Homo sapiens: one gene and its partners. The protein of the gene in region 1 purifies or fractionates together with the protein of each later gene. This does not show direct contact. Each region holds a gene or a part of one and is shown on either strand. Other genes may lie near its edges.

The links.
Region 2: the proteins of NAAA (region 1) and EDEM1 purify together in Homo sapiens (affinity purification with mass spectrometry; 3 studies listed by BioGRID and IntAct, with this or other methods). This does not show direct contact.
Region 3: the proteins of NAAA (region 1) and NAGLU purify together in Homo sapiens (affinity purification with mass spectrometry; 3 studies listed by BioGRID and IntAct, with this or other methods). This does not show direct contact.
Region 4: the proteins of NAAA (region 1) and CEMIP2 purify together in Homo sapiens (affinity purification with mass spectrometry; 3 studies listed by BioGRID and IntAct, with this or other methods). This does not show direct contact.
Region 5: the proteins of NAAA (region 1) and POGLUT1 purify together in Homo sapiens (affinity purification with mass spectrometry; 3 studies listed by BioGRID and IntAct, with this or other methods). This does not show direct contact.
Region 6: the proteins of NAAA (region 1) and ITGA4 purify together in Homo sapiens (affinity purification with mass spectrometry; 3 studies listed by BioGRID and IntAct, with this or other methods). This does not show direct contact.
Region 7: the proteins of NAAA (region 1) and MAN2B2 purify together in Homo sapiens (affinity purification with mass spectrometry; 3 studies listed by BioGRID and IntAct, with this or other methods). This does not show direct contact.

What each region holds. Positions count from the first base shown.
Region 1 is NC_000004.12:75,934,094-75,938,160, forward strand, and holds part of NAAA (N-acylethanolamine-hydrolyzing acid amidase isoform 1 precursor), read right to left. Parts: intron 2,143-4,067; coding exon 2,016-2,142; intron 1-2,015.
Region 2 is NC_000003.12:5,193,736-5,197,802, reverse strand, and holds part of EDEM1 (ER degradation-enhancing alpha-mannosidase-like protein 1), read right to left. Parts: exon of another isoform or gene 2,838-4,067; intron 2,595-2,837; coding exon 2,522-2,594; intron 1-2,521. UniProt on the Homo sapiens protein: Extracts misfolded glycoproteins, but not glycoproteins undergoing productive folding, from the calnexin cycle.
Region 3 is NC_000017.11:42,534,689-42,539,351, reverse strand, and holds the start of NAGLU (alpha-N-acetylglucosaminidase precursor), read right to left. Parts: upstream 3,112-4,663; 5' UTR 3,080-3,111; coding exon 2,697-3,079; intron 2,536-2,696; coding exon of another isoform or gene 2,479-2,535; intron 1,955-2,478; coding exon 1,807-1,954; intron 1,014-1,806; coding exon 867-1,013; intron 683-866; coding exon 597-682; intron 1-596. UniProt on the Homo sapiens protein: Involved in the degradation of heparan sulfate.
Region 4 is NC_000009.12:71,730,179-71,734,245, forward strand, and holds part of CEMIP2 (cell surface hyaluronidase CEMIP2), read right to left. Parts: intron 2,343-4,067; coding exon 2,173-2,342; intron 737-2,172; coding exon 527-736; intron 76-526; coding exon 1-75. UniProt on the Homo sapiens protein: Cell surface hyaluronidase that mediates the initial cleavage of extracellular high-molecular-weight hyaluronan into intermediate-size hyaluronan of approximately 10-5 kDa fragments.
Region 5 is NC_000003.12:119,489,100-119,493,166, reverse strand, and holds part of POGLUT1 (protein O-glucosyltransferase 1 precursor), read right to left. Parts: intron 2,617-4,067; coding exon 2,449-2,616; intron 1,650-2,448; coding exon 1,593-1,649; intron 886-1,592; coding exon 729-885; 3' UTR 1-728. UniProt on the Homo sapiens protein: Dual specificity glycosyltransferase that catalyzes the transfer of glucose and xylose from UDP-glucose and UDP-xylose, respectively, to a serine residue found in the consensus sequence of C-X-S-X-P-C.
Region 6 is NC_000002.12:181,460,159-181,464,225, reverse strand, and holds part of ITGA4 (integrin alpha-4 isoform 1 preproprotein), read right to left. Parts: intron 1-4,067. UniProt on the Homo sapiens protein: Integrins alpha-4/beta-1 (VLA-4) and alpha-4/beta-7 are receptors for fibronectin. They recognize one or more domains within the alternatively spliced CS-1 and CS-5 regions of fibronectin. They are also receptors for VCAM1.
Region 7 is NC_000004.12:6,619,662-6,623,902, reverse strand, and holds the end of MAN2B2 (epididymis-specific alpha-mannosidase isoform 1 precursor), read right to left. Parts: intron 3,977-4,241; coding exon 3,859-3,976; intron 2,716-3,858; coding exon 2,618-2,715; 3' UTR 541-2,617; downstream 1-540.

The DNA of each region.
Region 1 (4,067 bases):
ATAATTTACAGCCTAATTAAGGCTGTAAACAAAAACTATCAGTAGGCCTAACGCCTGGGTTCTGGCCCTACCTCTGCCATGTCTCTAGAGGCCTTGTGATTCGGGGCAAGTCAGTCTCTGTGAAGCTGGGCCCCCTCATCTAGAAAGTAAAGATTAAAATGTTGACTTATGCCTGCTTCACAGGGCTGCTGGGGGGATCGAATGAGGTCCTGTGTATGATAATACTTTTGTTGTTGTTGTTGAGATGGAGTCTCACTCTGTCACTGGGCTAGAGTGCAGTGGTGCGATCTCAGCTCACTGCAACCTCCGCCTCCCAGGTTCAAGCGATTCCCCTGCCTCAGCCTCCCAAGTAGCTGGGATTACAGACACCCACCCACACGCCCAGCTAATTTTTTTTTTTTTTTTTTGTAGTTTTAGTAGAGACGGGGTTTCACCACATTGGCCAGGCTGGTCTTGAACTCCTGACCTCGTGATTCGCCTGCCTCGGCCTCCCAAAGTGTTGGGATTACAGGCGTGAGCCACCGCGCCCAGCCAAAAATACTTTTAAGATTACAAACACTAGACAAGAATGAGAGATGAATTATTTTGTGGATAACCTGTTCTTAATTTCATAAAACAATTTCTTGGCCATGAGTCCTCCATAGAAAAGCAATACCCAAGTGTAAACTGTCTATATTCAGTAACAGTCACCTGAGTACTGAGAGTAAAACTACCTCTACAGACTATTTCTCTATAGATTATTTCATGGGAACTCCAGGAAAAACAAAAACAAATGAAGCAACAACTATTAGAGTGAGTTTCAGAGCAGCTGAAATAATTTATTTTCATTGCATTTATTCCTTTGTCTCTTTATTAAGAGTATTAGCTCATTATAGAACAATGGAGAAAAAACATGAATAAATAATAAATAATATTATCCTTCATTCAGTAATAACTTAATATTTAGCAGATTTCCTTTGAGAATTTATTATGCATTTATATTATCGTTACCACTTAAAATCATTTTTAAAGTAATTCAGCTAGAAATCAAATTGTTAATAGTGGCAAAGTAAAGAAATGGGACTGGAAAGGAGAAACTTTTACTTTAAATATTTCTGTACTGTTTGAATTTTTTATGAAAAAAAGTGTTTGTAAAAGCAGATGACTGAGTAGTTAGTAAATGAGTTTTTAGTATTTGTGAATCAACCCCTAAATGCAAAGAACAAAGGGAATATAGTCCTTGTCCTTACAGCCAAAATCTGGCTTTTGCACTCTGTATTCTGTTTTACAGCAAAACATGCTTTGCGTACTCAATGAACATTGATTAATTCTGTCTCTCTAAAAGTTTACACAGTTGACAACAGCACACACTAGATTATAGTTTTAAAGGGACCATGCTATAAACAAAAGATCTAAGTATAATTTTTTAAAGATCATACACAAGAAAGTGGTGTGGGTCAATCACACTTGCAGAATGAAGGACCATTTATTATTTGGCTACAACTTTACATAGACTACTTCATTTAACATTTATAACTATCGCAGTAAAGTAGTTATGAGCCTCCATGAGCTGTAGTCTGCAAAATTAGGGAATGAGTAATTTCTCAGGTTCACAAAGGAAGTACAGTAATTGATAGAATCAAGATTTAAACCTGGGACTGTCAGATCCCAAAGTTGGGTGTTTCTAGTTATTGCACTACCCAGCCCCTCCATATTCCAGAAGCAGCCTGGGCATGGGAAAGCAGAGGAAAGAGCTGACTCTGCATAAGTGGATGATTGATCACTCTCTAAAAGAGATTTCCCTATGGAAAACTGGGTGACCTCTTTAAGTAGACACTGAATAATAAATAATAAATGACCGTCCTTCCTATAAGCATAATTGATGCAAACCTCTCTTCTGGCTTTGTTTTTCCAGGGGTGTGATTTTTTTGTGTCTTACACTGATAACACACTTAAGTTAGCAGGCCATCCAAATGACTGCTAACTTGAGTTTGCAAATCTTTCTGATTTTTTATCTTATATGGTACGGATTATACCTGCCCATTCTTTAAGAATTGCACATCCACTGTCAGCTTGCGTAAGACATTCCCAAAAGGATAATCCAAATTCCGACCATGGTAAATGTGGCCTCTGGAGTCTTGAGCCACAATACTGGTGCAGAACCTGAGAAAAGGGAAAAGTCCAACATGAATGAATAAGACAAATAAGAAAAAAAAGGAAAAGGAGTTTTTCATTTGTAAAACAAATCCTCAAAGTAAAAGTTTTTCTTCCTTATAACTGATATATGTGCTATAATGCTTGTATAAGAATATAGATTAACAATTCAAGATGAAAAACACAACTGGATACAACTCATCTGTGTTCATTCAGTGTTTCTAGGATCTTTACCCTTAGCACACATGGAGGGCATCATAAGCATAGTAAGTGAGAATTTCATCCTCAGTCTAAATCTGAAGTGAAACTAACCCATCCTGGGCTCAGGACACCTCTGAACTCTGCTTTTTCCTCTGCATGGCAGCATGTATTCTATTTAACACATGATTCAAAGCCAGCTCAAGCTCACCTCTCCATATATGAATTCCTCAGAGCAAATAAAGTAACACTAAACCATTGTTTCACAAATGTTTCATTTTGTCCCCTTGGGAAAATGGCTGGCTCTTAAGGGACTTGGCACTTTTCCTTTCTCTCTCCAGCTCCTTGCACAGAGATCATAATTTTAAAAAAGGGGGAATCTCTATGAACAGAAGTATTGTGAGAAAAAGAGGAGGAGGCTTGTTAAGTATCTATCCATATTCTCTGAGAATATTTAACTGTACATGAAAAAATATTTATATACAGTATGTCCAATACCAGAGGGAAAAATATGTATATCCACATGAACAAAACTGAGAGAAAATATCCTGAAGGGTTTTTCTGGTCATTTTTTAATAACAGGATGGTGGTTAGCTTTGTTTTTTTACTTTTCTACATTTACTGATTTTCTACAACGATTACATGTTACTTTTATAATTGGGGAAAAAAGTGTTACTTTTTGTTTGTTTGTTTTAAGATGGAAACTTGGGCTGGGCAAGGGCACAGTGGCTCATGCCTGTAATCCCAGCACTTTGGGAGGCCAAGGTGGGTGAATCATGAGGTCAGGAGTTTGAGACCAGCCTGGCCAACATAGTGAAACCTCATCTCTACTAAAAATACAAAAATTAGCCGGGCATGGTGGCGCACACCTGTTGTCCCAGCTATCTGGGGGGCTGAGGCAGGAAAATCGCTTGAACCAGGGAGGCGGAGGTTGCGATGAGCCAAGATCGTGCCACTACACTCCAGCCTGAGTAACAGAGTGAGACTCCGTCTCAAACATAAATAAATAAAATAAAATAAAGACGGAAACTTGGTCAGTTTTAATTCCCTCCAAGGTTTCTGTTATTTATTTATTTATTTATTTATTTTGAGTCTCTGTCACCCAGGCTGGAGTGCAGTGGTGCAATGTCGGCTCACTGCAGCCGTGACTTCCCGGGCTGAAGCGATCCTCCCACTTCAGCCTCCTGAGTATCTGGGACCACAGGCGCAAGCCTCCACATCCGGCTAATTTTGTGGTATTTTTTGTAGAGACAAGGTTTTACCATGTTGCCCAGGCTGGTCTCGAACTCCTGGGCTCAAGAGATCCATCCACCTCAGCCTCCCAAAATGCTGGCAATGCAGGCGTGAGCCACTGTGGCCGGCCACCCTCCAAGGTTTCTGAGCTTAACTTCAAAGAGTTCAGGTCAGGGAGGGGACTGGTAAGACATGGGAAGTACTAAAGCAAAGTTTGTGGGATCTCTCTCAGAGGCGATTTTTCAAAATTGGCAAGATAACAATACTTCCATCTCAGGCCCAAATGTTGTAGTGTGATGCAGCAGTGCACAAGCATGGGAGACAAATGAGGAAACAGGCTCTGCTTTGAAAGGCACTGCAGCGAACTGGAGATTCCCATGCTTTTAGCACTCACCAGCCACCTGACTTCCAGCAAGGTGGCCCCACTGAGGCTTGGTTTCCACATCACAAAACAGATGATACCATCTTCCCCACGGGACTGTGTTCATGAAGTGCCTGGCACC
Region 2 (4,067 bases), on another chromosome or scaffold:
TTTCTTTTTAGAAGATGATGCAATAATGCTGCAAGTTGCATCCAATGGTCAGGGGACTGCTATCTTCACAGTGTTTCCCTAGCACATCTGTTAAAGCCTGTTTAAATGTTAGCAAAAGAAAAGGAAAACTTCAACAGAAGTAACACCTGAAAAATAAGCCTGAAGCACTAAAGGCCGGATATTCTACAATGAAAACCACAGAGATGAGTCTGTTTCCTTACAGATGTTTACCAGCAACAATATCTGGTGAAGCTGCAGGTGCTGACAGGAGCTCAAATCAAGTGAGGAAGGTGAAGGAAGTCAACAGCTCTTACTTATTGTAGTTTATCATTATGGTCAGATAGCTATAGAATCCTGAGTGACTATGTTCTGAAATCACACTAATGTTTGAAAATGGCTGAATGGGACAGAGGAGCTAAATGGGTTTGTTTGTTTGACTGTAGGACTTCTCAGAGTCTTTAAAATGCTGATGGGCACTGTGGCTCTCTAATAGTGGGACCAGACATACGGAATTTCTCAAGTTCATTTAGAAACAGAACTCTTCTTTCAGGGAGTAAGTATCTTTGGAATCTGTGTTGGGAAATGCTTCATTAGTCAGAATTCATTTTTTGAACAAACATTTGCACTGCTACTGTGCACCAGACACCATTAAGTGTGGGGGAGAGTATGGTGAACAACAGAATAGCAGGCAAGATGGAGGGATAAAAAAACAAAATGGGGAAAAAAAAAAAAAAAAAAGCCAGCTACTCGGGAGGCTGAGGCAGGCGAATCACTCGAACCCAGGAGCTGAAGGTTGAAGTGAGCCAAGATCACGCCACAGCACTCCAGCCTGGCGGCAGAGCGAGACTCTCTCAAAAAAAAAAAAAAGAAAAGAAAAGAAAAGAAAAGACGACGACGATGACAAAGCTCTCAGGGACAAGGAGTAGGCTTTCATGAGCTATACATTGAGTCTTAGGACGTTTCCTTTAAGCAACACTTGTAGGCTGAGTCAGCCTCTGGTATCATCAACAAATTAGCTCTAAGGTCGAACATACTTGTCTGGGCACATTTTGATCAGTGATGGTAAATGACTGAAACAGAGCAGCAATAACTTCAGAAGGAGATATTGGGAAACTAAGTTGCTTTGTAATTTAAATTATACTAAATCAGTACCCCAGATTTCCTATTAGACCAAGGGCCTAGTCCTATTTCTACTACTTATTTATAAAATGAGGACGTAGAATGATCTCTCAAGCTCTTTCCAAGTTCTGGTAATTCTACTACTAGCAAGATACTAGACAATCATAATGCAAACTTGGCTAGCACATTACCCAATTCTTGTGTGTGTGTGTGTGTGTGTGTCTCCAGAGATGGAGTCTCACTCTGTTGCCCAGGCTACAGTGCAGTGGCGCAATCTCAGCTGACTGCAACCTCTGACTCCTGGGTTCAAGCATTTCTCCTGCCTCAGCCTCTTGAAGAGCTGGGACCACAGGCGCCCGCCACCATGCCCAGCTAATTTTTGTACTTTTAGTAGAGAAGGGGTTTCACCATGTTGGTCAGGCTGGTCTCAAACTCCTGACCTCAGCTGATCCTCCCACCTCAACCGCCCTAAGTGCTGGGATTACAGGCGTGAGCCACTGCGCCCGGCCCCAATTCTATCTCCTAACAGACAGCTTTAAACTCTTCTATGGCATGTTAAAAGAAACAAGAATAAATAAAAGTACAACATTTGGGCTAGACTGCAATAAGATATTTCTCATGGTAAAGACTTGCTGGACAATGAAGGAAAGCAAAGAGGTTGTAAAAATCACCTTAACTAAGAAGATTTTAAAACAACACTATGCTGGAATACAGTCCCCTGGAAACTGCTTTAATGGCAAAAGGTGAAGCAGATGAAGCACACAGACATGGCACCATGTACTGAGTGCCACACTGCCTTCAAGGTGCTTCTGCATATCTGCTCAAAGGCCTCTAGTTCTCCAGAGTCAATGAGCAAAACCACAGGATGAGGCAGTAATGCCAGCACCCACGTTGGCAGCTCAGGCATGGAGTGTCCACAAAACAGGAAGTGGCAAATAAAAGAGAAGGGTTTCTAGGGAGCCCCACATAAGGATGGGCGCTAGGGCTCCAACTTGCTCCTGGGGGAGCCAGTGGCTAGATGACATTTCAGGGTACCTGCCAACCCTTAGATCTTCTCTCTTTTACTCCTGGAATAGCAACGACTATAATTATCAATATTAATGAGCTTCATTATGGGTTCTTTTAGGGAATAAGATAGAAACTGGTTAAAAAAAAATAGGTTCCCTAAAATCAATCGTACATTCCTTCTCCTTTTTTTAATGGAATCACATTTCCCCTCATTTAACCTTCAACACTTTTCTTGTTCTCCCCATTAAGGTCATTAAAATAAATAACAGTTATCAAAGCTAATGATACATTTTGACTTATCAGGCTCCCTGGAATTCCCACTGCTGGAGGGAACTAGGGATAATCAACTCTAAAACATCTTAATTCATTTTTTTAAAAAAAGGTGAACACTTACTGCAAGTGTATCCAATGCATCAACAAGAGTCAATGAGTAGTTCCCTAGTACATCATTGATGTTCAGATTTGAACTGAAAAAGAAAATTAAAATTCAACAAAAAGACTTTATTTCAAAAGAGAAGACAATAAAAGTAAACACCCATCAGAAACTATAATTGCCAGCAACTCTTATTTATTCAGGAACTAATTATGGGTGAATTAATACAGCAAAGGTCTTTCTACCCCCAAAGTAACACTTTCTATGGTGTCCATAAGTAGAATCAAGTCACAGAACTGTGGAGACACACTTGTACCAGAGTGGAAAGAATGCTCACAGGAAGTCAGGAGGCAGTGAGTCATCTCCTCTCTGAGATTCAGGTTTATCACCATAGACAATCTCCTTGGTCCTGTCCAACTTTAAAAAGCTCTGATTTCACAATCATTAGGAACTAAAGAAGAGCCCTTGTCATACGACCCACCTGTAATACTTTAATACAGAAATTAGACACCACAGCCTATATTACACACAAAAAGAAGTAAATACATTAATTGACAGTGTCAATATTACTCATCTGCCCTATGGTTGGGGGTATAAATTAACTTCTTTACACCATTTCTTCATTAATAACTCATCCAAAGGGTCTTGATTATTTCCGTTAATTCTGAGATATCATTTAACATGAACCTAGGCAGGAATTGAGGCCTTTCTCACTTCTTGACTGGAGCTACATAAACGTTTCTGCCACACACCTCTCACCCCATAATCTACACCAATTTTCCATTCTGAAACAACCTTAAGAAACCAACTTCAGGATGACAAGGGTGAAGCTCCTCAGGCACTGTGGTATGTCTTTGTAACACTTTACAAAAAAGTCAACAACAAAAAAACTAATACATCTGGGAGAATAGGGATGAAGAACTAGTAAAATAAAGGACAGTTTGAGAAATTCTGGGGACTTCATTTATTTATTTGTCCCATTCCCAAAAATCCAGAAAATAAGTGCAGAAGCTTGGAAAAAATGATAGTAAGAGAAGACATAAGACAACTGTTTAAAGATTTTATTAGCAACCAAAGCAAAAAAGCTCCAGTTTTATTTCCAGCAAGATGCATTGATATCTGCAGTCTTCCATCATATCCCAAAGCACTTCATCTGCTCCTCGGATCACCCTAATGGGTCCTTATCTCACCTTCCAGTCAGAGAAGCTTCTGGTGCACAGCACCTCTCGTGTTGTGATGGCTTGCTGTGGTCTCTGAAAGGCCTGTGCCTCAGCTGGGGAAAATGGGGCTTATGTGAAAGAGGCATAACAGCTCCAATGTCTCATTTTATTTGAACCCTCCAGTTGCCTTGTTTTATGCTGTTACACCATCTAATCTAAAGCAAAGAATTTATAGTAAAATTTTAGGCTGGGTGCGGTGGCTCACGCCTGTAATCCCAGCACTTTGGGAGGCCGAGGTGGGTGGATCATCCAAGGTCAGGAGTTCAAGACCAGCCTGGCCAACATGGCAAGACCCTGTCTCTACTAAAAATACAAAAATTAGCTGGGCGTGGTGGCAGGCGCCTGTA
Region 3 (4,663 bases), on another chromosome or scaffold:
CACCCCTGCTGCCACTCCCAAGGGCTGCCATTTGCTAGCACTCTGTGCAAAGTCACAGATAGATCGAGAGATAATTACAAACCCTACAGCGAAGTGGGTAGAGATCCCATTTTACAAGTAAGGAAACTGAGGCACAGAGCAGTCATGTCATCTGCCCGAAGTCACACAGCTAATTAGTAGCAGAGTCAGAAATCAAACCCAGGCCTACGTCCAGAGCTTGTTTGTTTGTTTGAGACAGAGTTTCGCTCGTCACCCAGGCTGGAGTGCAATGGCGTGATCTTGACTCACTGCAACGTCTGCCTCCCAGGTTTAAGCAATTCTCCTGTCTCAGCCTCCTAAGTAGATGGGATTACAGGCGCGTGCCACCATGCCCAGCTAATTTTTATATTTTTAGTAGAGACAGGGTTTCACCATGTTGGCCAGGCTGGTCTCGAACTCCTGACCTCAGGTGATCCGCCCAACTCGGCCTCCCAAAGTGCTGGGATTACAGGCGTGAGCCACTGCGCCCGGCCCAGAGCTTAAGTTTTTAAGTCATGTTCTAGAAGGGAATAAAATTCCCTCTCTGAGCTAAGTGGAGGGGGTGAGCGGAACCTCACCTGGTGACAGCCTCGGGAACATGCCCCGCGAATGCAGGCAGCACTGGGGTCATGCCGAAGGAGCGCATCTGGTCCAGGACCCGGTGCTGGAGGAACAGAAGGAAGGGTGGTGAGCATGGCCACTGCTGTCCTATGAGAAGGCCCTCATCTCCCAGGATACACGCAGCCCCCCGCCTCAGTTAAGAGCCCTGGGGCCGGCCTAATACCACCCTTCCTGGGCCCATGACCATCTATCACCGATTCTGCCCCTTCCCTTTTCCATCCTTTTACCTGCAGGTAAAGCTGCTTGATGTGCCAGGAGGGGGGCAGGGGGCCATCCCAGGTGTGCAGGTTGCCCATTCGCCCCCAGGCCAGGAAGGCAGGACCAGTAAAGAACTCATTGATCTCTGCCTGGGTCAGGCCCAAGGCCAGGTACACCTGAGGAAGAAGGGCCCACACATAGAAATATATTCATCTTCATTCATTCATTCATTCATTCAACAACCATTCACTCATTGCTTCTTTGTGCTGGGTGCTAGGGCTACTGAGACAAAATCCGAACGCTGCCATCAAGGAGCCCACAGCCCAGAGGAAAGAGACCTGTGAGTAGGTGAGTTCACTGTGTTGCCTTTGTCGCATGGGTGAGGAGATGGGGCACAAAGGGGCTTTCCCCCAACAGGAAGGCCTTAGAAGGCTTCATGGAGCAAGAGTGCCAGATGGAAGGGCAGGGCAACTGTGTGAAGAGCTTAAGCAGAGCCTGGAGCAGCCATTGCAGCACAGAAGCTTCCAGGGAGGCAGATCTAGAGCTGCCCATGAGTTGGATCCAAGGGACCAGGTGATTGGCTGCATAGGGGAGATGGGGGAAGGAGCCCCACTCCTCAAACTGGAAGCCTCAGTTTTTTTTTTTTTTTTTTTTAGACAGAGTCTCGCTCTGTTGCCCAGGTTGCTATTTCTTTGTATTTTAGTAGAGACGGGGTTTCACAATGTTGGCCAGGATGGTCTCGATCTCCTGAACTCCTGATCCGCCCGCCTAGGCCTCCCGAAGTGCTGGGATGACAGGCGTGAGCCACCGCGCCCGGCCGGAAGCCTCAGTTTTTAGGAGGCCCAAGCCACTGTGCACGCTGAAAGCACTTCTAGAGAGAGACACTGCGCCCATGCTGGGGGGCGGGTGAAAACACCTACGGTGGCTCCCGCCATAGAGGAGGGTGGGGAAGGGACAGTGGGCACGCACCCGCTGCCAGATGGCCTCCTGGCCGCTCCAGGCCAGTGCCAGGTTGATGCCATTCAGCGCCATCCAGTCTATCTCTCGCTCCCAGCGGGCCCAGTCCCACCACACGAAAGAGTAGCTTTGCGTGCACACATTCTGGTAATAGCGGTACCTGCGGGCAGTGTCATGAGCAGGGGCGCATCCCACCCTGGAGGGTCCACGGCCCTGGAACAAATCCCCCATCCCCCACCTAGAGGAGAGGGGAGGGGCTCCAAACTCGGCCCTTCTGCTGCACACTGGGACCCACCCCAGGTGGAGCTGAGACCAGGTACCGGGGCTGGGCTTCTGAGGCACTCGTCCCCTGCACTCTCCCAGGGCCCTCTAGCCTGGCGGGTATTTGGGTGGCATATTCCACTTTCATGCCACACTGCCAGAGCCCCTCCTCTGCACGGTGTTTTCCTGGAACGGGGAATCCCTGCCCCCACAGTCTAACAGATGGGCAGGGGAGGACAGCTGTGTGAACACATCACTCCATAGTGTGGCAGGCGCTGGAACACAGGCCTGTAGGGTGGGGGATGGAGGCGTCCTTCCTCAGTCCGCAGGTTCAAAGAGAAGGTGGGGGAGGAAGGCAAGAAAATTCACTCATCACCAATTGTGCACCACAAATTCTATGCCCATCATCGTGCAAATCCTCACAATAACACTGCACGGTAGGCGTCTTCTTTCCGTTTTTCAGGTGGGCCAGCCGAGGCTCTGAAAGGCAGAGTGGCTGGCTCAAGGCCACACAGCTGCTGGAGGCGGCGCAGCTGGGCCTTCCGGCCAGCGCTCCCCGCTCAGCCTCCCGATTTGGGTGGCAGCGGCTCCGGGAGGGGGTAAGCGCCTCGGGCGGACGCGGGGAAGCTTCGGGGCGGTACCTGTTGGGCGTGGCCTCGGTCAGCTCCCCCGGCACGGCTGGCAGTGGCCGCGGCAGGCGCAGCTGAGAGCCGGACCAGGCCACGTGGCAGCCACAGAAGTCGCGCAGGTAGCGGTGCAGCCCCGCGGCGGCCGCCACGCCCGTGGAGCCGCGCACCCGCACGCGCGCCGCGCCGCCGCCGCCCAGGCTGTAGGTGTCCAAGCCCGGCTTGGCAGCCAGAGCGCGCTCCACCGACACGGAGAAGTCGGCCGCGGGGCCTGGCCCCAGCAGCCGGGCCACGAGCGCCCGCACGGCCGCCGCCTCCCGGGCCTCGTCGCCTGCCGCGCCCCCGGCCCCGGCCAGGAGAAGGACCCCCACCGCCGCGGCCACCGCCACCGCCTCCATGGTCTCAGTCCTGCGGGTCCCGCGACGGCCAGGGGGTGGGGCGGCCCGCGTCCAATCAGCTGCCGGCCTCCGGCCACGTGGACCCGAAGGCTAAGCCCGGGCTCAGGGCCAGGAGTCGCGGCTTCCGGGTACCAGGATACTCCCTTGGGGGCGTCTCGTGACCGCACGCGGTGGGGAGCGTGTGACCCCGGCTCCAGGGCCGAAGGGGACCCGCTGGCCCTCACAGAGCGCCTTCGGGTAAAACGCGCTTTCACACGCAAATAACTTCCATCCAACCATCTAATAAATACACATTTGGAGTTTATTTTGTATCAGGCACTGCCATAGCTACTTCCCTACTGATGAACGAGAAGACGGTCCCTACCGTCCCCGTCAGGGAGGTGACCTAGAAACCAGATATTTAACGTAAGTAAGGATTTCCATCATAGTTGTGATGCTGCGAAGTAGTGCAGTAAGTAGCGAAGTAGCGAAGTAAGGTTTCCAAAGGAAGTGACTTTTAATCTGAAACTCAGGGATGAATAGGAATTGGCTAGAAGAGGGAAAGGAAGAGCCTTCCAGACAGAAGAAATGCATTTATTGAAGGCCCTGAGAAGGCAGAGAGCTTGCAGATTTGAGTAACTAACAGGCTAGGAGGTTCGAGGAGGGATGGGGCCATGTGAGCCCAGGCCGGCGGTGGAGCAGGGCTGGCGGGCACGTTAAAGGCTGTCCATTGGCGGCAGCAGCAGCAACATAACAGGAGCTGTCATTTTGTCAGAAGTTTCCAACCAGAGCGACTCCATCTTGAACAGGGGCTGGGTAAAATGAGGCAGAGACCTGCTGGGCTGAATTCCCAGGAGGTTAGGCCTTCGTCACAGGATGAGACAGGAGGTCAGCACAAGATAAAAGGTCACAAGACCCCGCTGATAAAACAGAATGCAGCAAAGAAACTGGTCAAAACCTGCCAAAACCAAGACAGGAAGGTGACCTCTGATCGTCCTCACTGCTCATTATACGCTAATTATAATGCATTAGTATGCTAAAGACACTCCTAGCAGCGCCAGGCAGTTTACAAATGCCATGGCAACGTCCAGAAGTTACCCTATATGGTCTAAACAGTGGAGGAACCTTCAGTTGGGGGGGATCCCCACCCCTTTTCTGAAAAATTCATTACTAACCCACCCCTTGTTTATCATATAATCAAGAAATAACCATAAAAATAGCCAACCTTAGGCCAGGAGCGGTGGCTTACGCCTGTAATCCCAGCACTCTGGGAGGCTGAGGCTTGCAGATCACCTCAAGTCAGGGGTTTGAGACCAGCCTGGCCAACATACAGTGAAACCCCGTCTGTACTAAAAATACAAAAGTTAGCCAGGTGCTGGGCGCGGTGGCTCACGCCTGTAATCCCAGCACTTTGGGAGGCCAAGACGGGCGGATACGAGGTCAGGAGATCAAGACCCTCCTGGCTAACACGGTGAAACTCCATCTCTACTAAAAATACAAAAAATTAGCCGGGCGTGTTGGCGAGCGCCTGTACTCCCAGCTACTCGGGAGGCTAAGGCAGGAGAATGGCGTGAACCGGAGAGGCGGAGGTTGCAGTGAGCCAAG
Region 4 (4,067 bases), on another chromosome or scaffold:
AGTATTCCTCTGTTCAATACCATCTTCCAAAAAGAAACAATGACCTAGTGTGTCAAACCCAATGGTGTCTTTTATCTGCAGAAATAAAAGTATATTAATGTCATTGGTAACAAGAATGATTGTGATTTAAGTGACAAGCGCTATCCAGTGTAGCATGTTCAGTACAAGTGGAAAAACAGGTTTGAACCTTAGCAGAATGGGCAAAGTGAAATGTCAGGCTTAATTTATCTCTGAAGGGGATAATCTGCTTGGGTCCCACAGGGGAAAAAAATAAAAATAAGTTGTAAATAAATAAATAAAAATAAAATACAAGACATAAAATTGAATTAAATTTAAAAGAGGATACTCTGGGTGGTTGGAAAGGTAGGCTTCCTTCAGACAGAAAAATCGTGGAATGCTCAGAAAAGGCAGGATAGAGCAAGGCATGTGGCTAAACAGTTTACATATATAAAATTGAGAAGACATGAGAATTAAAGAGAGTTAACTATTTCAATAATATGGGTTGACCTAATGCGAGGCTACTTACTAGCAAGCCATTTGTCCCATGCACAGTGATGCACCTTGAGAAGCTGTGATGAATAGACAGGCCGTCCACAAATGTTGCATGTCTGTATCCTCCTTTATAATCCACGTCACCACACAGGTGAAAATGAACAGGGTATCGCCCCATCTGCTGCTGACCCATGTGTTTCAATTCCACATAAGAAAGATGGACTGAAGTAAAATTTTTCATTATCTGTAAGTCAAGGTACTAAAATCAAACTCATACTTTTCAGAATAGGGAAGTAGCAAAAAATATTGTTCTAGTAGAAAACATCCAAAGGAGAATACTTATTAAAACATTCGATTTTCTTTTGCATCCTGTTTTCCCAGATTGCCAGTTAATAATTTAGGAAATGCTTCTTTACAAAAGCAAATACTTTAAAGAGCCACAAAAATAGCCTCCAATTAGGAATAAAGGCAAATGTAATCAGGAAAGCTGCAATAATGATCTCTGCTAAGTGTTTTGATTTGTTCAAATATTTTGGTCATTCCCAGTCTCGTCTTGTTCTTTCACTTCTATAACCTCCATCAGAGTCTGATAAATAGTTATTTATTTCTAGATCCTCCCCAGTGTTTTAGTTAGCACATAATATTGTTGGCTTAAGTTACTTTTAAAAGTTCTTCTGTGATCCAAAGTTTGAGCACTCTCAATATATTTAAACACTAGATTTTCAATCGTATTACTAACAACAAGGGAATAGTACTGATCGACATTTCAGAAATCCTTGTAACAGGCGGGGTACAGTGGCTCACACCTAGCACTTTGGGAGGCCAAGGTGGGCAAATTGCTTGAGCCCAGGAGTTCAATACCAGCCTGGGCAACATGGCAAAACCTTGTCTCAAAAAAACAAATGCAAAAATTAGCCAGGCACTGTGGTGTACACCTGTAGTCCCAGCTATTTGGCGGGGCTGAGGTGGGAGGATCACTTGATCCCAGGATATTGAGCCCACAGTCAGTTGTGATCATGCCACTGTACTCCATCCTGGGTGACAGAATGAGACTGTATCTCAAAAAAAAAAAAAAAATTCCTTGTAACAGAAATACTACTTACAACCACAGCCTACTCAATGCACAAAAAGTGATTTAAAAACACATGTAGCCAAAATGCAGCCCAGAAGTCCAACAGATTAGTATATATTAATAGAATACTGCCTAGCATATAGTAAGTGCTCAAAATTTTTCCAGAACAAAAATTTGCATACAAAAAATATTTTTATAGGAACATATTTTGCATGTGCTTGCTAGTATTGCTAACCCTTTGGTAATACTATGCTTTTTAAAAAAACTAATTGATTCTTTCAGAAATCGCATGCATGGATACCAACCAAGAGCCTTCAGTTTTTTTTTGTTTTGTTTTGTTTTTTGGTCTCTGTAATTGGTTCTTCCCAATATATTGATTTGACTCTTCATGGAACAATTCTTAAATGGTTTAACTAGAGGTCCAGGTCAACTAACTGAAGTCATAACATTCTATTTTAATCATCTAAAACCTCCTCATTGTCATTTGAGAAACAAAACATGATTTGCTTTTAATATCCATTTATATCTTGTTCCAAAACTTGACAGTTTCTTCAAACATATATTTAGCAACCAGGATTTCAAAGAAATAATCAAATCCTTTTGCCTACCATAATGTGTCCCCCAAAGGTATCATAATCAAAAAATTGGCACTGATTTTCTGCGTAGCATGAGTCCTCCACTTCTCCTTGGATCACAATATTCCGGGTAAGAATTCCAACCTCAGCTCTCATGTCTACACCGTCTATGATCTCACCCATGTGCAGGAACTGAGGGGTTTCTGGTTGATATGAGCAAGGAAAAAAAAGAATATTAGAACAAAGAAAACATGAAACTCACTTCAAAAAGACATTCTCTTCATTCCATAACCCCAAGATGATCCTGACAACTTATCATCTGCTCCCATTCTCTGACACTTCAGAATCAGAATCCCAGGACACGGGGAATTTTTTTTTTTTTTTTTTTTTTTTTTTTTTTTTTTTGTGAGACGGAGTCTCACTCTGTCCCCCAGGCTGGAGTGCAGCGGCATGATCTTGGCTTACTGCAAGCTCCGCCTCCCGGGTTCATGCCATTCTCCTGCCTCAGCCTCCCAACACAGGGAATTTAAAGATCATCTAGTCCAGCCCCCACCCACTGCCTGAACCCTCACTACTAACTGTTCTGCCAATTCTCAAACCCACACACTGACAGAAAGCTTGTTCCTTCCTGAAGCAGCTCAATCCTCCCTTCAACAGCACTAATAATCTGGAATCTAATGATCTATAATCTTTCTCTCCAGTTTCTGTCCATACGCTCTTGGTCTCCTCCCCTAGGGCATATGAAGAACCAAATGCATAGTGAGTCCATAAAACAAATGGTGTGTAGATATTAATATCAGGGTGTCAACTTGTTTATGCTTTTACCTGAAAGCTGAAGTAATCTGCAACTGGACATTAACAATAGATAAATTACCATCTTTTCTTTCTCATTTCTTATTTTATGTTATTATGCATTCTTTTAAATTCCCACATTTACTGGAAGTGTAGAAGCACTTTAATAATGAGCTTTTCACTGATGATCTTATTACATAAACTCAGGAAGGAAAAATACACATAAATCTTGGGAGGACAGTTCATGAAGACTCATCATGCAGACTTGTTAACAAGAGTTGGAATTTCCAAAAAAAATTAATGCCAGATGGTATCATAGTTTTGGGGTTTTTTTGTTGGGGCAGTGTTCTTGTTTTGTTTATGCCCTGTATTATCAAGAAGGAAAAGTACAATGTTGACGGAAGCACAGGGAAAAAAGGCCAGGTGAGCCAATCACTATTTTTTTCTAAAGCAGAAAATTTTTCCTTAAATGTTGAAGCTCTACCTATTACTCTAAATTACTGAAAAACTAAAGAAGCACTTACTGAACAGTTACTGTAAACTCTTTTGTTTTATACCATAAATGTATAATGTTGAGTTCAAAAGAAAAGCAATAGAATGAGTGAAATGCACAATGAATCCCATAAATGAAGCAATGTACAAAGGGGCTGTGCCTAGTACCAGGCTCAAAATGAGTGCCCGGTAAGTGTCAGGCATTCTTTCAATATGCAACTTACAGTAAGAATTTCTTTGTGTAGTCTTTTTTTTTTTTTGAGACGCAGTCTCGCTCTGTCGCCCAGGCTGCAGTGCAGTGACATGATCTCAGCTCACTGCGACCTTCGCCTCCTGGGTTCAAGCGATTCTCCTGCCTCAGCCTCCCTAGCAGCTGGGATTACAAGCCTTGTGCCACCATGCCTGGCTAATGTTTTTTGTATATTTAGTAGAGATGGGGTTTCACCGTATGGGCCGGGCCGGTCTCAAATGCCTAACCACAAGAGATCCACCTGCCTCAGCCTCCCAAAGTGCTGGGATTATAGGCGGGAGCCACTGCTCCCAGCAAGGAAATGTAGTCTTAAGAAAATACCTATCTGATTCCATTTTAAATATCAATGAGTTTTTGTTTTTGTTTTTGTTTTTGGTAATCAAATAGGCACTCG
Region 5 (4,067 bases), on another chromosome or scaffold:
TTGTCTTTTTTTTTTTTTTTGGCTTTAGAGAGGCATTAAGAAGTAGGGCATGAAGGCACAAAAAGGGAACCTGAAATCCAATTGCAATAATTACTCATGCAATTGGCCTCTTTCTATGTGGCATTATAGAAACCTCCTGAGTAACACAGTTTATGGTTTTACAAAAGAGAACTCCTACATCATTGCATGGCATGGCTACCGCTTCCTTAGACCATTCAGAGAATGATCCCCAAGTATTTTTCATAAACCCCATAGGGTTTCCTACATTAAAATAAAGTGACAGAGATCACGCCTTGAATAATTTCACAATTCCAGCAATGAGTTGTACTACTTCCAAATGACGAATTTTCTGCTCCAAATAATGGGACAAAGGGCATCATCACATGGACACAGTCAATTTCACAGTGATGGACTCACACAGGTGGATGATCTGAGGCACAAGCTGTGATTGGTCTTAAGAAAATGAAAGGTAGAGTTGGGTTCAAAATCCACATCTCACGATTTCTGGTCCTTATTCATCCAAAAAGTTGAACTGCTTCATATCAGTGTATTAGACACATTTTAAATCTTTCTCAAGAGTTGCTCTGGGTGCAGCATGATAAGGAAAACCAGGTATTTGGCTTGATAGCAGATATTCAAGGTATAGGTGCCAAGCTTATGGTAAGCTTCTCACCGTAGGATATCTGAGATCTGTTGCCACAAAGAGGACTATGGTCCTATGATGACTACTATAGTTCAGTTTTCAACATTTTGGGAATAATTTGATCATAACCTTTCCTTCTCGTTACATTATAAGACAGGAATTTAGAGTATTCACTCAAGAGGTTCTCCCAGTAACAGGTGATGTCATCCATCTGCAAATGGTTCCTAATAAACTGGCTTCCCCTAGAGACAAGATTTAACAAGAAAATGTTAAAGCACAGAATTTAATGATAATAGCAGTCTGCATTTGAGTGCTCACCTTGTGCCAAGCATTATTCAGCATTTTATATAAATTAATTCATTTGAGCCTCAAGAACCAACCCTATGGCAATCATATCCACATACATGCATGTAGCAATACAACTTAACAATCTTTTTCCTTTATTTATTTATTTATTTATTTATTTTTTGAGACGGAGTTTCGCTCTTGTTGCTCATGCTGGAGCGCAATGGTGCGATCTTGGCTCACTGCAACCTCCGCCTCCCGGGTTCAAGTGATTCTCCTGCCTCAGCCTCCCGAGTAGCTGGGATTACAGGCACGCACCACCACACCCGGCTAATTTTTTTGTATTTCTAGTAGAGATGGGGTTTCACCATGGCTAGGCTGGTCTTGAACTTCTGACCTCAGGTGATCCGCCCACCTCGGCCTTCCAGAGTGCTGGGATTACAGGCGTTAGCCACCACGCCCGGCCCATCTTTTTCCTTTAAAACAAGCATATGTAGACATGTGTGTATGTTTTCCCCCAGGACAGGTTTAGTTCTGAATTATCTCCATATAATGAGGATAAAATACAGATGTCACCATGATAACAATATTCAGATAACTTTGGCTAGGGCATAATGGGGATGACAAAAAGTAAAGTGGAAAAGGGAAAATGAACAGAACTCACCTTTCAGCAATCTCTTGAGCTACATCATCATTTGCTTTTACAAATTGTAACAGCTCTCTAAAATGAAAAGAATTTTAGACTGTGAAATATAGACCAACTTCATTGGCACTAAGTCAGAAAGACGATATAGATTGAGGTCTATGGATAATTTTAGGTATGTGGATGGTGGATTATTTCCTTCAAGCAAAGATATCAGGGTTCTCTCAAGAACAAAATAATAACAAAAAAAAACCCCCACACACTGATTAAAGATACCCTATTGTAGATTTGGGACATATTTGAGAAAATACAGAAGTTACCTTATATATTTACATATATTTTGTATATTTATATTATATATTATATTAGATATTTATATTATTTTACATATTTATATATAAATATATTTATATATAGAAAAAAAATATATATACACAGATATCACCATGATAACAATATTCAGATAACTCTGGCCCTTCTCTATACTTCTTCCTAGCTCCTCCTGTCATGAAAGGAAATTTGCTGAAGCTTCACTTGAGTCAATTCTCATGCTGTATCTGAAAATCCTTTTGACAATATAATAAGATTGAATATCCCTATCTTTAGTCTTGGAGAGATTAGAGCTTTTTAACTTCATTTTGTCTGAACGTTTCATTTGAAACCAGTATTAAAGCGCTTTTTCAAATTAAATTCCACTTATAGCCTACTTGGATAATAATGCAATACTATATATGCAAACCAAGAGGAAAAAAAGCTTTCAATGGAAAAAAATCGTAGGACTAAATGTCTTACATGACTGGTTTTAAGGCATTAAGGCATTTTTAAAAGCAGATTGGAAGGGTCTTTAGAAACTCTGCATTGGGGGATAACTGCTTACTGGACATTGGAGAGATCTGTTTTGACTGGGATATAGTGAACCCATGGCTTCAGCTGTGGATAGAAGAATTCTAGCCACTCATCACCAACATGGAAAACAAGTGAGCCACACAGGAAGAGGTGTTTAAACCGGAAACTTGCAGCTACGCCTCGAAAATTAAACAGATACCTGGGGAAAAAAGAACAAAATACATTTGATACTATATGCCTGCTGCCACAAATATGACCTTTTATGCTTATTCTCCCCTCCCCTTCTTTCCTTTTATGATTCCTCTCCATTCTCTTTCCACTTTGAGTTTTCAAGGACACATTAATATGTTCCTAAGTGGTTTCTATCAGCCACTTTACCAGGGCTAGGACTACAGGTTGTTCTGGGAATGGCAGGGTGAGGAAAAATAGGGGATATTTTCTCCAGACAGCACTAGATAGGGTCAGGAGCTGGGTGCCGGGTAGAGTGTATACAGGGCTCAGAAGGAAATGACAGCTTGTAGATTTGGAACATATCTGAGAAAATAAATGTTCAATGGTAAACATAAAATAAAACGAGTGAAAAAAATTTCACAAGCTTTTCTAGGCCTAATGTCTCTAACTAGTCATGGCCTCCCAAAGCCTTGTTTTTCCTCTAGTGTACCCCATCTGGTCGAAGGTCTCCACTGCTTCCTGGACATCACCCTCTTCTCTTAAAGTATAGAGCAGCGGTCCCCAACCTCTTTGGCACCAGGGACCAGTTTCATGGGAGACAATTTTTCCATGGATGGGTAGTGTGGGGGAGATGGTTTTGGATGAAACTGTTCCACCTCAGATCATCAGGCATTAGTTAGATTCTCATAAGGAGCACGCAACCTTGATCCCTTGCATACACAGTTCACAATACAGTTTGTGCTCCTATGAGAATCTAATGCCAAGGCTGATCTGACAGAAGGCAGAGCTCAGGCGGTAATGCTCGCTTCCCCACTGCTCACCTCCTGCCATGCAGCCTGGTTCCTAATAGACCAGTACCATGGCAGGGGGTTGGGGACCCCTGGTGTAGAGAGGAGAATGAGGAAAACCTAATCAATTTTCAGAGATTGCCCACAGGGGAAAAAAAAAAAACAAAAAAAGCTGTCTTCTTCTCAGCATTTCTTATGCACGCACCTGTCGCCAACCAGAGTTGCTTTCACCATATAGCTCCTACTCTGCGTGTCATTAGCACTCCTAACTCTGAGCCACCCCCACCACCACTGCCCTCCTCTAGACCTGGTTTTACCTGTTCATCTAATTCTTAGTCCCAGAATTTTATTTTATTTCTCTTAGAGACAGGGTCTCACTATGTAGCCCAGGCTGGTCTTGAACTCTTGGGCTCAAAGGATCCTCCTACCTCAGCCTCCCGAGTAGCTAAGACTACAGGAGCATGCCAGCACACCAGGATAATAATTCTAATATTTATTAACTGAGAAATATTTATTCTAACTTCAATGATTGGGTGGGTGGGGCATATGGAGAGGTAATTCCATTACTGTGATTACTAGCTAGCATGCAGCTGTTTGGAAGCAGGAACCATGTTCCATTCTTCTCTACAGTCGCCACAGAACTCAGGTCAGTGCATTTAGGCCCTGAGGAAAAGCCAGTGAAATGAATTAA
Region 6 (4,067 bases), on another chromosome or scaffold:
GATGTCTTGGCAACCTTTACTACTGCCAACTACTCACCTCTTCTCAAAACACTCTCTTCCTTTAATCAGGTTAATGTCAGATTGACCTGATTTTTCTTGCTACCTCTTTGGCTTCACCCTCTTAGCCTTTTTTTCAGCCTCTTTTCTTCTCCAGCGGTTCTCAAGCATGGATGAATACTGGAATCATCTGGGGACCTCTGGAAACTACTGGTGCCCTATAGACTTACCCCAGAGATTCTAGTAGTTTGAGATGGGCCACCAGAACTGTTAAAAGCTCTGCATGAGAATTTAAGTTACAGCCAGACTTGAGCAGCACTATTCTAATCACTTCTCGAACTGTAGGAATCCTTAGAAATTTGCCATTGGCCATTTGATCTATTTACCCCAGAGAGATGGTAATCAAAGCCTTGGAGGTGAATGGGGTTACGTCAATTACTCACCTCTGATTTGCTAGTACAGACCTCTCTACTGTCTACCACACCCATACATGGAACTGATCATAGAACTGATCACTAGATTTTTACTTCTATGTCTCACAGGAATCTCAAGCCAACGAAACTCATCATTTTGCCAGAAAACCTGCTGCTCTTCCCTTTTTCAGTATATTGGATCATCATCCATGTCACAGCCCAAATTAGAAACTTCAGTAACATCTTTGGAACATTCTCACTCATCTCTTTCATTCAATAATTACCAAGTGCTATCTCCTAAATACCTTCAGAATCTCCATGTTCTTCTCCACTGCTATTGCCAGTGTCCTTGTACAGACACTTGTCATCTGTAGTCTAAATTATAACAAAATCTTCCTACAACTGCCTCATTGCCTTCAGTCTTGACCCAGTTACTCCAAAGCATTCACTAACCTGCAACCAGAGAATCTGTCAAACACACAAATCTGATCATGTCACTCCCCAGTTTTAAATATCCTAGGGTAAATTCATACTTAGAGTTGTATCAGAAGTAATTCCTGCCTGCCTCTCTAACCTACAGTTTAGCTCACACTCCATAGTGCAACTGTACACAATTTTTAGTTCTTCAAAAGCATCGTGCTCTCAAAGACTTCAGGGTCTTTATACACACAGTTTGCTCTTTCTGGCAAACTTTTCCATAGCCTCTTCCTCTGGCTAACTTCTGATTATTTTTCAGTTCCCCCACTTGAACACCAATTCTTCAGGAATGCATCACTTTATTGTCTTACCTAGATTAAATCTCACCATACTTTCCTATAATAACCTATCTTATAAACTTTAAAGCCTTTGGGACAAGGAGTATGTTTCTTTTGTATGCCCAGGTTCAGGCCCTTAGGCATCCCTCAATGAACAACTGAATGGATAAATTACCCACATGTGCAACGGATTTCAGCATCTGACCCTAGAACTGTTGCCAAGGGGATATATTTTCAAGTCATTGGGTATATCACTCAGTGACCAAGTAAACTTAAGGCAAAAACTAAAGTGCATTTAGAAAGCCTCATCTCTCAAATTAGGTGGAAACCTCATCCTTTTGGGACATAAAGTTTGGGAAACTGCTGGAAATAAGGAAACTTCTTTCTGGTAACCTGATAGTTTATTAGTGAAGCTCTCTGTCTTGATTTTCTACATAATTGTATAACAGCCTTCATTCAGGGATGATTTTTCAAAATGACCAATCTGCAATCTCAGCTTCATAAGCTACAATTTAAAGCACATTGCAAATGAAAAAGTAAAAAGTTATCAAGAAAAACATATTTGAAGTTTCAACAGTGAGATATTTGCTATTTAATGTTAAGCTAATAACTCCTATGAATCAAGTAGAAGTGAGGATTAGGTAATCATTAGTTTAATAATGCAATGCTAATTAAATTCTTTCAAATAGGTTATATAATATGAACCAGGAGGCTGGCTAAGGTAATAAAATTTCCAGAAAGAAATCTAAATATGGGTAATGGTGACTAACTTGAGATGGGTCTTTCCTGTAAGAGAGGGACAGGCAGGCAGCTTGAAGGCCCAGTAACTATAGAACACTTAGTCTAGAAAAGAAAGTGAAAGTTCTACTCATTTATGCATAAATATCAGGAAAGCATCTCCTAAAGAGATAGCGTTATTTTTACACAGAGAACTTAATGTTTCTCTACAGCAGTGCTGTCCAATAGAAATATAATACAAGCCCATTGGAAATTTTAAATTTTATAATAGCCACATGAAAAAAGTAAAAATAAAATTAATTTTATTTAACCTAAAATTTTATTTCGCCTAATAAATCCAAAATATTATGTAATCAATAATTTTAAAGTGTTTGTTTCAATATATATCATAAAAATTAATGAGTTTTCTTATACTAAGTATTCAAAAGCCAGTATGTAATTTACATTACAGCCCTCTCATCGCTGACTAGCCACATTTTATGTGTTCAAAGCCACCTGTGGTTAGTGGATACTATACTGGATAGTGTAATTGTATAACTTTAGACTATTACCCAAATGAGAGTTAGTGTGTGTATAATGCTTTCAGTGGTAACTCCAAAGTAATGAAAGATCTGGAAACATATTTGAATAACCAAATAAAGACCATCTTTTTAGTGTAATTTGATAATCATTTCTATGTTTTATTATGTTCTATTTGAATATTGATAGTCCATGGATGGACTATGCTTAACTATATTAATTGAGTCATTATTTGTGACACCTTAATTTAGGAACCAGCTGTGATTAAAGTTTCCTTTAAACAAGCCTGATGATGCAGAGTGCCCGGGTGGAAAGTGGACATGTAGAAATCACCTGGGTCTCCTCAGATATAGTCTTCACGAGCAAGTCTGGGCCCAGACCCTCCTGGCAGAGAGACCACTTTCCTCTGGTACAAAAGAAGTGAGAGAAGAGATGTCTCTTGGGGAGTCAGGGAGGTAAAAGGAGGCCAACAATATATATGCAGGAAGAAAAGCACCTTGCGGTACTATCCAGGCAACTCTCTTGGTGCTGGCTCTGCAGTCAACTTGCTTGACTAAAAGGGGTATCTCATGCCTAACGTCTCTCACCCTGGGCATTCTAGATAAACAGGCAGGCTCACTTCTGCTTATGGCATGAATATACCATATGGGACACCTTGTCCACAGAGGGTAGGGTAGGCGAGATATGGACCTTCTCTTTTGAGGGGAGGAGTCTATCTGAATCAACCACTGATCTGAAATTCTACAGAGACTCAAAGACTAGTCCATGTGGATATTTTTAATTGTGTGGGAGATGGGCACCATTTGAAGACCCTACACCTTCAGGTTCTTGATAGCAAGTAAAGCTATTCCAAAGGAAAGAAGATACCTTACTGACATGGCAATCACAGATCGATCTTTAATCATTATAACATTTTTTTCTTCAGCCAACAAAAATTTCTCATTGTGTTTCATTTCAACTTCTACCTTTTAATGTATTACCTTTTAATTTTTAAACTTTTGGTTCAGTTTATCAATTGTCCCTATTAACCTCAGCCTGCTTGTTACAGATAACATACAGATAATAGATTTAAGTAAACAATAAAGAAGAACCACTATTTTTTGAATGTATTATGTGTCAGTACTGAGCTAAGCATTTTTGAAACATTAGAGTCACCCACATTTGAAACAGGACAACTGAAGCTATTTTATACAGAAGATTCACACACACACACACACACACACACACACACACACACTCTTCTACAGAAGATGGCTTATATATATTTACACACACTCTTGAAACTTCTTCATACAAAATAGTGCATAGCCCACAAACCTAAGAATCCTAAATTATCTTTATTACCAATGTATTGTTTTTAGTGTTTTATTTCTAGACTGTAGCCTCAATCCCTATTTTATAGCTTCAAGCTACCACTGAATTTATTCTGAATAGAGAGGCAGTTTCTTTACATGAGGAATAAAAGATATCTGTATTCTTTAGAATGTTACATGAGAAATAACTTCAGTCAACTCTTCGGCAAATACTCAAGGCATTACTATCACTATTAATGTTTTAACTCATTGACTGACTAGGAATCTTGCCTTTTTTCCTTTCATCCCAGTAAATACCTTGTAGATTGGCCAAAATTTTGAAAGTTAAAAAT
Region 7 (4,241 bases), about 69 Mb from region 1:
GGATGTTAGATTTTAGCCAATATTCTGTCTATTGTGGGTGGGTTTTCCCCTGTCATCTATATTCTTCTCACTCTTCCCAGTTGAGGGTGCTGGGTGCTGGAGGGACCGCAGGGGGAAGTGGCTCTCTTGCTGTTTCTGTTCTGGACGGGGATGGTCAGCATGGGTGATGGTACTTTCAGTGCACATGATTTTTCTACAGCCTGGCTGCGCTGGGGATAACATTTCCATAGTCTTCTTTATTTTTTTCTGAGACAGGGTCTTGCTCTATTACCCCGGTTGGAGTTAGTGGCATGATCATGGCTCACTGAAGCCTCGACCTCCTGGGCTCAAGTGAGCCTCCCACCTCAGCCCCCAGAGTAGCTGGGACCACTGGTGCACACCACCACGCTCGTCTAAAGAATAGTTTTTGTAGAGATGGGGTCTCACTATATTGCCGAGGCTGGTCTGGAACACCTGGGCTCAAGCGATCCTTCTGCCTAGGGCTCCCAGCGTGTTGGAATTTCAGGCATGAACCACCACGCCTGGCCTCCGTAGTCTTCCTTTTTTTTTTTTTTTTGAGACGGAGTCTCACTCTTGTCACCCAGGCTGGAGTGCAGAGGCGGAGGTCTCCTCCGCCTCCCAGGTTCAAGTGATTGATTCTCCTGCCTCAGCCTCCCGAGTAGCTGGGACTACAGGCGCACACCACCACACCCGGTTAACTTTGTATTTTTAGTAGAGATGGGGTTTCACCATGTTGGCCAGCCTGGTCTTGAACTACTGACCACCAGTGATCCGGTTGCTTTGGCCTCCCAAAGTGCTGGGATTAAGGCATGAACCACTGCCCAGCCTCCATAGTCTTCTTGACACAGAAACCAAGCCTCATGCAGCCCACATGCTCTAAAGGGCTCCTGCCTCACTCCTTGTGCCTCAACCTCCCACTGCACATCCATGCCTCTGGTGGCTGCTCACCTGACCCCACCTCACAGGGGTGGCCTATTGCTTGGTCAGCAACTCCAGCCCAGCTCCTGCCTGGCCAAACCAGAGACTGTCTTTGCTGTCTGGTGGCCAAACTGCACGTTGTCCAGAGGTCTGACTCCTTCCAAGCTGGTCCTTTCTGGGTACTTTCCTTCAGCCCTAGAGTACCAAATAATTTCCTACATCTTACAGTTTACTCTTTAAAACGGTTTAGGCCGGGCACATTGGCTCACGCCTGTAATCCTGGCACTTTGGGAGGCCGGGGCAGGCAGATCACCTGAGGTCAGGAGTTCCAGATCAGCCTGGCCAACATGGTGAATCCCCGTCTCTACTAAAAATACAAAAATTAGCTGACGCAGTGGTGCATCTCTAGTAGCAGCTACTCGGGAGGCAGAGGCTGGAGAATTGCTTGAACCCAGGAGGTGCAGGTCGCAGTGAGCTGAGATCTTGACACTGCACTCCAGCCTGGGCGACAGAGTGAGACTCTGTCTCGGGAAAAAAAAAAAAAAGTTTTAAAATTGAGATATAATTCACAGACCATAAAATTCATCTTCCAAAGTTTTTAATTCATTGGTTTCTAGTATATTCACAAAGTTGTGCAACCATCATTCCACAATTTCATCATCTTCCAAAGAAAGCCCGTCCCTGTTAGCTGTCATGCCTCTTCTCTCTTCCTCCAGTACCTGGCAACCACCAATGTGCTTTGTCTCTGATACACAGATTTGCCTATTCTGGACATTTCACATAAACTCGTGATTGGCTTCTTTCACTTAGCGTAATATTTGTAGGATTCACTCAGGCTGTGGCATGCGTCAGAATTTCCTTCCTTTTTATGGCCAAATAATATTCCATTGTATGGACAGAACACACTTCATGTCTTAATTCATCTGTGGATGGACATTTGGGTTGTTGCTACCGTTTGACTTTTGAGTAATGCTGCTATGAACGCGGGAGCACAGGTATTGTGTGGATGGATGTTTTCAATTCTCTTGGGCATAGACCTGGGAAGGTTATACTTTTATTGATATTAATAGTTCTGATATTGGACATCCCTGCTGTGTGGTTTCACCTCTCATGGACTCTGACGGCTGCTGTGCCTTCTCTGCTCGGCAGGCGGTGCCCTGAGGCACAGGTGGGCGTCTGGGGCTGGAACTCTCGCTAGGCGCTACAACTTCCTCTCCTGCCCTGTGGCAGAGCCAAGCCCCTTGCAGGGCTGTTGCCAGCATGGGATGAGTCTATGAAAACACGTGGCACGCAGTAGGTCCACAGTTACCACTGGCAGCCTGGCAAGCCTGGCAGGGCCCGGACGGCAGATGCGCTTCGGTGCTGCTGTGAGTCTTGTGCTCTGCCTTAGGCAGAAAGTCCTGGGTTTGTGTTTTGTGAATGAATGACGCATGAGTGTGCCAAATATCCTTTACGTGACAGAAGAGGAGAGGGCTGGCTTGATTGAGTGTGGGGGGGAAGAACCTGGATCTTGTAATGTAATTTTTGTTTAAAAAAATTAGGGAAAAACCCCAAATATGACCATTTCCTGCCATTAGCCTGCAGATGAGCAGCTGACTCCCCAGTCCCATCCCTCCGCACTGCTTTTCCCTGTCCTGGGTCTGTTCTGTTACATGGAGTTCCTGGGGGAAGCCCTGGGGCCGGGGCATCTGCCCAGGGCTCACTGCTGTTGAAAGTGAATAAAGAACGTCCGGATTTCCTTTGGGTGGACGGTGATGATGGGGCCTCCTGGTGGCCTCGAGGGAGAGGTGGTGTCACCTAGGGGAACAGAGGTGATCTGTCCAGTGTGGCCTGGGATGCCTCCTCCCAGCCTCCCTCTCACCCCCTGCACCTGTCTACAGTCTGCTGTGGCTCCCAGCCTCCCTCTCACCCTCCTGCACCTGTCTACAATCTGCTGTGGCTCCCAGCCTCCTTCTCACCACACTGCACCTGGCTACAGTCTGCTGTGGCTCCCACCGTGGCAACGGCCTATGGCATCCCCTTCTGCCAGGACTCCTGTGGGCCTCTTGGCGTTTCTGCCCACCCTGAGGGCAATTCATAGGTTGGTCCTGGCCCTAGTGGCCTCAATTCCTCATGGGTGTTGCCCTCAAAGCCCAAGAGCTTTCTGAGACCATCTGGTGAGTCTGCCCTTGCCTCACCAGGCTCCCCTGAAGGCATGCCCTGGGGTTGGGCTTCGATCTTGGGAGGGAGCCGTCCACTTATCTATCACTCATCCATCTTCCTTCCTTCTTTCCAACCAACATCATCTTCCCTCCCTCCCTCCCTCCGTCCCTTCCTTCCTCCCACCACCAACTGAGCGTGCACCATGCACCCGCCACCATGCTGTGTGTAGTGGACAACGAGCTGCACAGGACAGAAGAAACCCCTGGGGCCAGGAGAGTGGAGGAGGCACTTGGCCTGGTTGGTGACTCTGGGGAGGCATCCTGGGGAGCTTGAGCAGGTGCTGGCCAGAGTGAATGGGACCTGTGCGTCCCAGGCAGAGGGCATGGTGCGGACAGGGAGTGGAGCCTGGAAGCTGCCTGTAGTGCAGGAGCTCACGGTGGCACATGTCGTATGAGGCAGGGACCGGCTGATGGGCTGAGGTCAGCAGGGCCAAGGTGGGCAGAAGCCCCTGGGCCCCTAGCTGTCACCCAGGGCACAGGCAGGGCGTGTGGTCTGCGTGTGCACACGTACAAGTGCACACACACGCCTGTGTGGAGCCCTGGCAGGCAGAGACTAACCCAAAGCCTTTCTTAACCGACTGTAGTAGATTTGGGAGGGCTGCGGGTTCAGAGTAGGAAAGCAGCCTCGCAAGGTCGCACAGGCCGGGACAGGCAGATGGTTGGATGTGCACCGGGTCTGACCAGCTGCTGAGCCTGGCTGGGAGTCCTGGGTAGGGAGCTGAAGCGGGGGTCCCCAAACCTCTGTGGCGGCCAGGCCCCGTCCTCCAGCTCCAGCGGTGCAGCATGCTCAAATCCCAGGTCCCTGTGAGCGAGCGCTCCTCCACTGCCACCACGGACCCCAGCGCCTGCAGCACAGCCTGCAGGGAGAGGAGCAGAGGGAGAGTGAGCTGCACCAAGTTCCAGAGCTGAGCAGAGAACCAAGACAGCAGCAGGGCAGACACACCACGAACTCGGTGTCCTCAGGAGCCCAGGTCCTCCCCTGGTGCCTGACACAGCTCCCTCATCTGCTTCTCACAGCACATCTGCGAGGACAGGACTGGCCGTGTACTTTACAGATGAGGACACTGAAGCGGGAGGTGCATGCTTTACCAGGTGGCCGAGCTGGAGGAGCAGCCCGGGAGG